4 separate regions of the Homo sapiens genome follow, and all the other regions are linked to region 4. Evidence: fine-mapped expression QTL. A gene starts in region 4. Each other region holds a variant in brackets. All regions are shown on one strand. Distances are from middle to middle. Region 1 has its middle 21 kb from the start of COL6A3. Region 2 has its middle 27 kb from the start of COL6A3. Region 3 holds the start of MLPH (melanophilin). Region 4 holds the start of COL6A3 (collagen type VI alpha 3 chain).

Region 1 (2,683 bases), 21 kb after region 4:
TAAGGATGAGGGCTGTGATGGGTGATGGCCACATCATTGGCTACTCCCCCTCCAGCCCCTAGGATTCATTGTCCACGGGAGAGCCCATCTCCCAGCTGCTGCAGGTGCTGCTAAGCGCTCGCACAGGTAGCCTTCCCTGGAGAATCATCCCTAAGCAACAGCGGCCCCTCCCCAGAGGTCCCAAGAACTATGTCTCCCTCCAGAGAAGGCCCAAAGCCAAAGACTGGCAAAGGGAAGGCTGCCAAGCACTACAGGGCAAATCTAATGAATGCCCCTGAGCAACATGAGAGCCGGCTCGGCTGCACTTCCCCTGCACACCCCTTGCCCCACTTCCTCCCCGACCTCTCCCGCTCCCCTCCCTCCTGTGCTAGCTTCTCCCACAGCATCCATATCCCTTGATCAGTCACTTGCACTGAGAATTTGTCTCAGGCACTGTTTCCACGGAGCCAGACCTAAGACAGGTGTAAGCCAGAGGGTCTGGATCAAATCCCAGGTGTGATAAGTCACCGGGGGCCAAGTACTCAACCTCACCAGATCTCACTGTCTTTCTCTGTAAAATAAGGATAATAGTCACACTTGCACATAAGGGTGCAGTGCAGAGTGCATGCGTGCATAACACTTAAAGTAATTGGAACACACCTGGCCCATCAAAAGCACCTGGAGGAGACATCAGTTCTTACCACTGTAGCCAGAAGGTTGTCTCTCTGAGCTACAAATAAGACACTGGACACCCATTTAGTCAACCTTCTACAGACGATCACAGCCCAACCCAATCAAGCACCTACGTTTCACATTAGGCATGTCCATTTCAGGGTGTCTTATCCAGCGGCTGAGTTTGAAGGATCATTTTCAGGGTGAAAATTGGAAGAACTGATGAAGCTCACAAAAGCAAATAAATAAGCACGGCTTTTGCAGGATGCTTCCAGCAGAGCAGTGCTGGCAAGCCTGGCTGCCTGTCAGAGCCACTGGGGGGCTTATTAAAACTGCTAGCTCCCCTCCACCACCATCCCCCACCCCTTCCCTAGCTCCGCCCCTGAAGGTCTAATTCAGTCTAGTCAGCTGGAGTCATAAAAGCCTTCCTGGAGAAGAAGACACCTAATCTGGGTCTGGAAGGATGTGTGGGAGTTGTTCAAATGGAGCAGCCGTGCGGGGGCAGGACATCCCAGCACAGGGGACTGTGAGAGCCACGACGTGGGCCCTGGAACCCTGTGGTAGATGCAGAGAACCACAAACATTTCCGTACGGCTAGAAAGCGAGTGGGGGTGGCAGGAAGTGGTGGGAGGGGCTCACGATGCCAGTAATGACCATATTCAGGGGTGCTCCCGAGCCCTCCTTCCTTATGCCCCACGTGCTCCCACATCACCC[CAGGAGATAATAAACG/C]AAGGCGTGCACATGGGGGTCAGGCCCCTGGGAGTCAACAATGACTTCGGAGACCTCAGAGAGTCTGCAAGAAGCTTCCCTGGCTGCGTCCCTTGCCCCTTTAGGACCTGTAGGGGCCGTCTTTGCTGGGTGAGGTGCAGCTGAACTAAGGGTGAGCTGCTTTCCTCTGCCACCACAGGACTCAAATCCCATGGGGCCCCAGAGCAGGTGGACGGTGGTCCCCTGGCTTCTGCATGGCTGTGCCAGCCCACCCTTACAGGGACAGCATCACAGGCAGCAGAACTTCCAGCATTCTCAAAGGAGCTAGAAATTCCACCTTTTTTGTGAGATTTGAATTTTTACATGTTGGAGCAAATTTTTTCTCTGAAGCAAAACACATTTGCAGAGTCGTGACCTCTGCCAGGGAAGTGGGACAGAAGCTGGAGCCAGAAGACCTGAGGACAGGTCTCAATTCTGTCCCCTGGCTCACCAACAAGGGAGGGGTGGGCCACAGGGTCTTTCAGTGCCTTCCCAGCTGGACATTTCTGACCTCTCCTCTTCTCCTCTCCAAAATAAAAAAAAAAATCCTTAAATTTTCTAACCACCTCGGTGTAATTTTACTAGAGCATTAACTGAATTATAAATGTGTCTATTCAAACAAGGGCCTGGCCAGTGAAATTTTAACCAACTACCTGATTTCCAACTGTTTTCCATTGACCCATATATTAAAATAGTAGAAGGCCTTGGTCTCATGAGGCTTCTGGAGAAGCCTGCACGCAGCAGGAATGACACCCTGGTTGTGGAATTTCACTAGGCAACAGGCTCCAAACAGAAAATGTTAGCACTTTTGAGGACAAATAGTGTTTCTGGTACACTCTCTCCCCACCCCTTTCCTTTATCTAGTTTCTGCTCTTTCTTTGCTCTTTTATTTTTACTACTCCTTTTAAGAGTTCGTGTGTATTTTTACTAAACTTCAGTAGTACATATCCCCTCGCCAAAATGCTCCCTTCTCACTTTACACACTGCTGAAAATTATCATGCTGGCCCCTTCCTTGGAGTACAGTTCTGCCCTGTTGAAATGCTCACCCAGGAGGGGGCACCGAATTCCTGCTTTGTCACCAGGGACTGGGTGTTCAAAGAGTCGTTCATGGGGTGGGGCGTGTGGCCATGCCAGATAGCTGGTCAACCCCGGAGGAAGGCCAGCCCCAGGAGGGAGCAAGTGCAGTGTAGGGTCCAGCCAAGGGTTTATGAGCCTGAAGATTGGTTCAGGCAGCGGCGCCATCCTAAGGGAAAAACAGATACACCTCGAAGAGAAGCTGCTCCA
Region 2 (2,683 bases), 27 kb after region 4:
AAGAAAAAGAAAAGAAAATATAAGGAAAAAGAAAGGGCCTAAAACAACCAACCATTAACTCTTGCTATGCCTCTTGAATCCCATGTTATAATAGGACATGATGCCCTCATCTTCCCTCTGCCCCTCCTCAGCACCTTCCACCACCCCACTCTGTGGAATCATTGCTCTTATTTTATTATTTTTAAAAATTTGGGAATATTAACATTCAATGCTGTTTCCATATGGAGTAAATTATCCAAAAATTGAATCTGAAAGTTAAAAACCTATCACTGCTACACACAGATATCACACACACACAATGTAAATGTGTGTCACTGCACAGCTGAGTAGGGTGCTGGTGTTGCATTTCCTTCTCTGGAAGGCCAACAATGCAACTAAAAAGGAATTGTCTCTGGACATGAGTCCTTTTTGCACTCTGCTAATTGCCTTATATCTTTGCAAGACCCTCCAGGATCTCAATTGCTTTATCTCTTTTACTCTTTCCTCCTTTCCCAGAGACTTCCTCTCAGCCTTTCCCTCCAGCCTGTGCCCCACTGCCACCATCCTTGCAGAGAGTATGGTGCTCTTACAATCAAATGCACCAACTGCTAGAAGTCAGGTCTGGCTCTTTCTTGATTTAATTTCTTCTCTTTTGGGAGAATGTCCTCCATTCACCTCCCATGGAAAGATGCATGAGAGGTAAACTTGCTTAGTTAGTCCACGCGTGAAAAAATCTTTGTTATTCCCTCACACTTGAGCAATAGTTTAAGGATGTTGAATACTGAGTTTAAGGTGTCATAAACTAAAGTCCTTTTCCTTTAGAACTCGCTCCGTTGGCTTCTAGCATCCAGTGCTGCTGGTGAGGATTCTGAGAAGCCTAGTATTTAATTCTTCATGAGTGATCTTTGTCACACTCTCTTTCTGTCATTGAAAATGTCTTCCCCTCCATGCTGCCTGGTCTTGCTTGTTGTCTTTTTGAGGCATGGGAAGACAAATTTAAAACAAATTGAAAAACAAGGAAGTGCCAGATGGGAGATAGAAAACATCACCTATATTACTGGGGGAGGCCAAGTTGGAGGATGTGCCTCATGGTGAAAACCAAATGAGACAGCTTCAGAAACAGGACAGCTTCAGAAACAGGACAGCTCCAGAAACAAGACAGCTCCAGAAATGACACAACTCCAGAAATGAGACAGCTCCGGAAATGACACAACTCCAGAAATAAGACAGCTCCAGAAATTGCACAGCTCCAGAAATGTTATAGTTCTAGAAATAAGACAGATTCAGAAATCACACAGCTCCAGAACTGGGTTGACTCATCCACCCAGTTTCAGTGGCACTGGGGTCACAGCAGACCTCCTGACAGGGGGACAGAGTAGAAAATGCTCCTAGCAGGAGGCAGTTCCCTCTGAAGAGGAAGAAAGACAGAGCTGCCCCTGCCCAGTAACCTTCCAACGTTTACCCATCAGAAGGGTCACAGGGCCCTTCCTGGAGAGAGATCTGGGAGAGGAGCAGGGAAGTGTGAGTGCCACATCAGGGAGAGAGAAAG[G/T]CTGTCCCCACATTGTAGTCTCTGAAACTGCGGATAGTCAAACATCAGAGCTTTTGACTTGAGCCTTTGTGGCTTTTCTCCCATATTCTTTATTTCTTGGTCTTTTTGTACTATTTTCTGGGAGATTTCTCCTACTTCTCTTCCAACACTTGTACTGATATTTTTCCCACACTTTAATTTTGCTGCACCTTCTCATGGTGACCTATTCTCACAGCCCTCTATTCACGCTTCGTAAATTATCTTTTTACAAAATTCATCTAAGTTGCTCATTTAGATGGGGTTTAAGGGTTTGTTTGATTTCTTTTTTATTGTTGTTCTTGCTGGTTGTGTGTATGTGTGGGAGGAGGGAGGGGGAATTGGGTCATCTGCAAGGCAGACAAGAAGACAGAGTCAGAGAGAATGAGATGTGTTGGCAGAAAAGCCTGTGATGATTAAGATCAAAGGGAGAAGGAGGCTTTCCAGCCTGCCTCCAGATTCTGAGCTGAACCATCTGTAAACCAGGCTTCAGCTTTTTGTTTCTCCTCTGGCAGAGCCTATCAGACCCACCCACAGGGCTGTTGATGCTAGCTGGGGGAGGGCACTGGCCCATCGTGGCAGAGGACGTGGTCATCTGGGACCACTGCTTGTATAGCTCACTTATGTCCTCTGGTCCTGTTCAGGCTCCATGCCAGCTGTGCCATTTCCATGTGAAAATGGACTTCCCCAGGCACACCCAGCTATATGATGTGGTGGGTCTGACCACCAATCCTACACTCTTAAAATCCCCAAGGCTGAGCCTGATCCATCCTCCTCCCTTCCAGAGTATGGATTTGTGATTCACTGTCATGGTGGGTGGGGAGTAGAACTTCAGAGCACTCTACTTGGTCTTCCTCATCACAATTGTTCTTACTCCATACTCCAAGATTCAGCATGGGTGCTGAACCCACTGCCAAATATATTGACCCCAGTTACATATCTGGGAAGTGAATGCAGAATTAAATGCAATGCAGTAATAGCCAGCCATTTTCACTCTCCTCATGTGCACTGTTGCCTCTGTATGTTTCAAAAGATCGAATCATCACACTCGTCAGGGCTTTCCCTCTTGAGTGGGACATTTGTGCAAGTCACCGCCATTAAAATTGTTACTGCTGGGCCACTATCTTGTGCTGGGGACTA
Region 3 (2,683 bases), 72 kb after region 4:
TATCAGTATGTATGTACAATGATATTCATGTGTCATCCTATGTATGATAGGTGTCAATAAGAATTATCTAGGATGATATTTATGGCAGAATCATTTAAATAGCAAAAAATCAAAAATTAACTGTCCATCAATAGAAGACTGGTAAGTAATTATGGTAACTCACACATTGGATACTCTGCAACCAAAAAAGGATGAAGTAGATCAACAGGAATAGTAATTAATATTTACCAAGCACTCACCACATGGTGTCTCACCCAAGCTGCAGGGATATTGATTCACAACACCCTTATGTGTAACTCCCATTACTATTCTCATCATGGAGAAGAGAGAAAAAAGTCAGTAGAAGATTCAGTAACAGGTCCAAGATGACACAGCTTGTGGGCCACACTCCTAGTTGGAATTCCGACTCTTGCAGTTGGTTTGAGCCCACATGCTTAACCTCACACACACACACACCATTCAGAAAGAATATAGAAGACACCATTAATAATGATTGCTTTCTGGTCATGGAGGTTAGTAATGGAATAAGAGAGAATTTGGCTTTTCATTTTATACTCCTTATATTCTTTACTATATACCTTATATATCAGCGTGTGTCAGTTGTATATTTTTTAAAACCACTACTTCAAATAAATAAGCACTAAAGTATTAAAAACATTTTTAAAAACTTCTGCCCTTAAGGAACTTAAGTCCCTACATCAACTCTTAAGGGATTTATTAATCTTAACAAGTAACAGTAAAGTATATGGCAAGGAGGTAAGGAAATGAAAAACATAAGCACCAGATCATATGGGATGTGGAAATACTGGCTTCAGTGTAAGCTTCACTCTATTCCAGGGTTCACACTCAACAATTGATGGTGTTTGGTAAGAGCACCTGTCTCAAAGCAGCCCAGGGGCCTGAAATACCCTGATTCACCTACAGTGTTCCCCTGGGCTCAGCAGGCAACAACATTCTTTTTTGTTCTTTTGCAGCCTTTTGAAAGCTGTTTACAAATAATCTAATGTGATATCACAACAATCCTATAAGGTTTTGATTCCTCTTCTGTTAAATGGAGATACTAGTATCTATTCATTCACCTAATGGCTTTATTCCTATCATTTTGCAGATAGGAAAACTGAATTGCAAAAGCGGTTCCTGGAGAACAGAATGTGAGTTTTTAAGTGACAAGGGAGAGGGAGGGGGAGGGAGAGAAAATTCTGAAGCGCCCAGTCTTGGAGGATGAGGGAGGAGGGCAATTCCCTAATGTCCATTGGAATTCGGAAGGACAGGCAGGCCGGGCGGACTGGAGACGGCGGCTCGCCTTGGGACCCTCTGAGCTTGCGGGCCCCGCTGAGCACCCAAAGGCCGGCCCTAGAGTCCAGGAGAAGAGCGCAGCGGCGCGGAGCTCCCAGGCGTTC[C/T]CCGCAGCGCGTCCTCGGTCCTGGAACCACCGCGCCGCGCGTCCTGGCTTCCACATCTGCCCCATTTGCCCGCGGATCTTGACTTTTTCTTGGCGGGCAAGGCCTCGGTCTCCTCCCCGCAGCAGGGCTGCCCGCGGCTGCGGGACCCTCCTGGTCCTGATGCCTGGCAGAATCGAAGGGGTGAGGGTACGCTCTCTGCAGCAGAAAGCCCTGGGCTTAAAGTCCTATTTATTATTTGGCGTTGCCACTTACTGGTCGGTGGCTTTGGTAGGGCGCGTTTCTGAGCCTCAGTTTCCCCATTTGTAAAGCCGAAGTACATAGCGCTTTCCCTGCAGAGTTAGAAATTTCGACGATGTGCCGCGCGCTCTAGAGCGCGCTCAGCAAGCGGGTCCCACCGTGCCCAAGGCAGGACCGCGGCGCGATGTCACCTATGCAAAGTCGCCGCAACTCACGGGAATCGCAGCTGTGTGCTCAACTTTCCCCTCCCCGCCGCCGTCTTTCTCCCCAAACTGGCTTGGGGGTCGAGTATCCGGGGCTCTCCCCCGCACTGGCGCTTCCCGCGCGGGCGCCCCAGGTGTCCGTTCCGTTCCGCCCTCTGCCTGGCAGGGCATCCAGAGGTGTCCGCGCTCCCGGAGCTGGGCGGAGCGGGGCGCAGCCCACGTGGTTCGGGCGGGAGGCGCCGGGACGTGGCCAGTTGCCCGCCTGCCCCGGAGAGCCAGGCGCTAACCAGCCGCTCTGCGCCCCGCGCCCTGCTTGCCCCCATTATCCAGCCTTGCCCCGGCGCCCTGACCTGACGCCCTGGCCTGACGCCCTGCTTCGTCGCCTCCTTTCTCTCCCAGGTGCTGGACCAGGGACTGAGCGTCCCCCGGAGAGGGTCCGGTGAGTGCACTGAGAAGAGGGAACAGCGGGGCCAGGGTGGCGCCCAGGACTCGGGGCTTAGGCTTTGGGGGGTGCGCGGTGTCGCGTGCAGACCCACTGGTGTGAAAACGCCCCCAGCCGCCAGCCTCCCGGCCTCGGTCCAGGCTGGTGAGGACAGCGCGTTCCCAGCCACCCAGCCTTAGTCCCCCAGGCTTCACCTGGATTCTTTGAGCAGACTGCTCTGGGTGCAGGCACGGGTGGGAGTGGGATGGCGGGGGATCCCCATTTTGGGCAAAACGGTTGGTTTTAATCAGAAGCTCCATTGCCTCCATTGCGAGTCTGCCATGCAGACTGGGCCAAGGCTGCTGATGCCAAGTAGGCTGGCCCCAGGGGAAAGGTTTCCTCCCAGCCCAGGAGCTGGTCTT
Region 4 (2,683 bases):
AGCATCCACCATCCCCGTGAGCTCTGAGCACCCTGCAGCTCTAGCACCCTGTGGTCCTCGCCGGGGTGAGCTGTATGTGGGGAGAGAAGCCAGTCAGCCGGGGCCACAGCCCTGCCTCCCCATCCAGCACAGCAGACTCCCCTGTGCTCAGAGGGGTTTGCTCCTGGGGTCTGCACCGGCCTCGAAACTGGCTCCTGGGGCTTCCTGTGGAAGCAGATTTTTCTTTAACCACTCCCTAGTCCCTCCCAGTGACCCCACCCATACTTCAATACCCGTTCATTATCCAACATAGTAGGCCCCTTGAAACAGGTTCCCCAAACAGGCTGGCCACTGTCAGCGAACGTGTCCATCCTCAGCAAGAGAGGGCCCGAGCCCCACCCTGCATCCTCCGGGCCAGAGAACAGCCCTCGGGGCCTCCCAGCTCGGCACTGGCCTCACCTCTGTGCAGCATGGGCTGGCCCTGCAGCCCCAGGGGCCCTGCCTTAGACACTCAGCATGCTGCCCAAATGCCCAATTCCTTCTTCTCCTCTGACCCCTGCAACTCCTTTAAGCAACCCCAAGGGACAAAGTCTCCAATAGAGACTTCAGGTTCCTGGAAAGACGAAAGCTTGACGGCAATGACTGAGCGACCCTTTACTTGGCCCTGATCCTGAGCACCAGAGTTACTCCAATCTTGTGAAAGCAGCAAATGTGCTCCACCAGGACCTTCCCATGGGCGGCCCTGGGCAGAAAACCCATGCAGGTTGTTGCACCCTGACCTAGTGTCACCACCCAGAGAGCTCAGAGAACATCTCCCAGCGGAGCCGCCCGGCAGGGAGCTATGCTAGTCCTCAGCAAAGACGCTTCTGCAAACAAAGCGGATCCCGAATGGGTTTTAGAAGGCGGCAGTAACTTAAATAAATCATGGGCCGAAACACACTGCCGCCCGGAATGCACAGGGCGCGTGTAGCAGCCACAGACACGCGGTGGAAAAGTGCTCACACTCTTAGGCAATCATGACCTTAACCAATTTAAGGAAATCCCATTGCCATAAAGTGAGAAAGAAAAATCAGCGGAATCTTCCAGAGACCTAAAACATGTACAGAAAACTGGCGATCAGCATGAACGTAAGAGCCACTAACGCTACCTAGAAAGGATCACTTCAGGTTAAGAGCATTTCCTTCTAGCCCCAAACCTGGAAAAACAGAAGAGAAATCACACTTACCCCTGAGCAAACCTGAAGGCGTGTGTCCCTGGGCTCCTCGATTCAATTAGGTTTGAATAGGATGCATACTTTTCCCACTCACTGCGTCTCTTTTTCTTTTTGCAGCCTTTCTCCACCAAAAAAGTGGAGACTCAGAGCTGCGGAGGAAAACTCTTGCAGTCCTTGCAGGAGGCTGGAGCCCAGGAGAACTGAACGGCCTTTGGTGGAAGACTGAGCTCCAAACTGGACTGGGGCCAGGGATACCAGTCAGGGCTTCCTCCAGCTCCTCCTCCTCCTCCTCCTCCCTCCCGGACCCCTCCTCTCCCCCTCCTCACTGCAGAACTGACCCAAAACTGTAAATGAAACCAGACTCCTCCACTCTGTTTCTTCTGGCCCCCGCTCAGGCTGATGTCACCCTCTGAATTCTGTCTTCACCCTACAAGCGTTTAGCTGGACTCCTGCAAGCCCCAACTCTTAAAAAAAAAAATTGACCACTCCTACTCGTCACCTTTTGGGCTGGGCCCTTGGCGTCAAAAAGAATAAATTTTGGAATTTCTTCGTGGGTATCCATGGTTTTCCTGCAATGTTTTCCAACACCATCTGAAAGGAAAACAGGAAATGCAGTCCCCCGCTTACCCTCACCACACCCTCCCATTTCTTCTTGAAGTTTCTGAATTGAGACTTCTACTAATAACTTCCCCCTTCAAATAGAAAAACCAGCAATTAAAATCGCCTTGGTTTTCTGTTAACCAAAGCTCTGTTCACCGGCAAAAAAAAGGAGGCTACATTTCTCTTAATTTCTATATCTAATGATTCTGATTGTGGCGCTTATAGGCCCATTCTAGGCACAGACGGGGTAATAAAAATGGTTATCTTGCCAAAGCTTCGGGAAAATACTTGAGTAAGAACTTCTGTTTCTAGAAAGCTTTGCACATTTCAAAACACTTCAATATACATTCTCTCCTTTATCACAAACATCAACACCCTAAGCCCTTTTAAATAGAAAGATGTCTTCTTTTATTAGGTGAAATTGTGGTCCCATTTTACAGATGAAAGAAACAGGCTGGGCACGGTGGCTTATGCCTGTAATCTCAGCACTTCGGGAGGCTAAGGCAGGCAGATCACAAGGTCAGGAGTTGGAGACCAGCCTGGCCAACATGGTGAAACCCCTACTAAATCTCTACTAAAAATATAAAAATTAGCCAGGCATGGTGGCAGGCGCTTGTAGTCCCAGCTATTTGGGAGGCTGAGGCAGGACAATTGCTTGAACCCAGGAGGCAGAGGTTGCAGTGAGCCGAGATGGCGCCACTGCACTCTAGCCTGGGCAACAGAGTGAGACTCCAAAAAAGAGAAAAAGGAAAGAAAGAAAAGAAATGAAAAGAAAAGAAGAGAAGAGAAGAGAAGAGAAGAGAAGAGAAGAGAAAAAAGAAAAAAAGAAAAGAAAAGAAGAAAAGAAAAGAAGTTCCGAGAGAGTAAGTGACATCGTCATTGTCCAGTCTG

Evidence for each region.
Region 1: its variant is fine-mapped to the expression of COL6A3 in T cells (TOPMed, PIP 0.96).
Region 2: its variant is fine-mapped to the expression of COL6A3 in whole blood (TOPMed, PIP above 0.99).
Region 3: its variant is fine-mapped to the expression of COL6A3 in whole blood (TOPMed, PIP above 0.99).

Annotation. Positions count from the first base shown.
Region 1 is chr2:237,433,872-237,436,554 of GRCh38, forward strand. No RefSeq gene overlaps it. Among named protein-coding and RNA genes, the nearest start is that of COL6A3, 21 kb to the left of the region's middle. The variant CAGGAGATAATAAACG/C (reference allele first, on the strand shown) is at 1,366.
Region 2 is chr2:237,439,769-237,442,451 of GRCh38, forward strand. No RefSeq gene overlaps it. Among named protein-coding and RNA genes, the nearest start is that of COL6A3, 27 kb to the left of the region's middle. The variant G/T (reference allele first, on the strand shown) is at 1,529.
Region 3 is chr2:237,485,159-237,487,841 of GRCh38, forward strand. MLPH (melanophilin) reads left to right here and starts at 2,093. Exons shown (of 16, transcript NM_024101.7): 1 at 2,093-2,279. It overlaps LOC105373957 (a long non-coding RNA gene), which reads right to left and starts at 1,990. Exons shown (of 2, transcript XR_001739962.2): 1 at 1,653-1,990; 2 at 542-1,563. RefSeq lists an enhancer at 960-1,928. The variant C/T (reference allele first, on the strand shown) is at 1,401.
Region 4 is chr2:237,412,749-237,415,431 of GRCh38, forward strand. COL6A3 (collagen type VI alpha 3 chain) reads right to left here and starts at 1,416. Exons shown (of 44, transcript NM_004369.4): 1 at 1,205-1,416.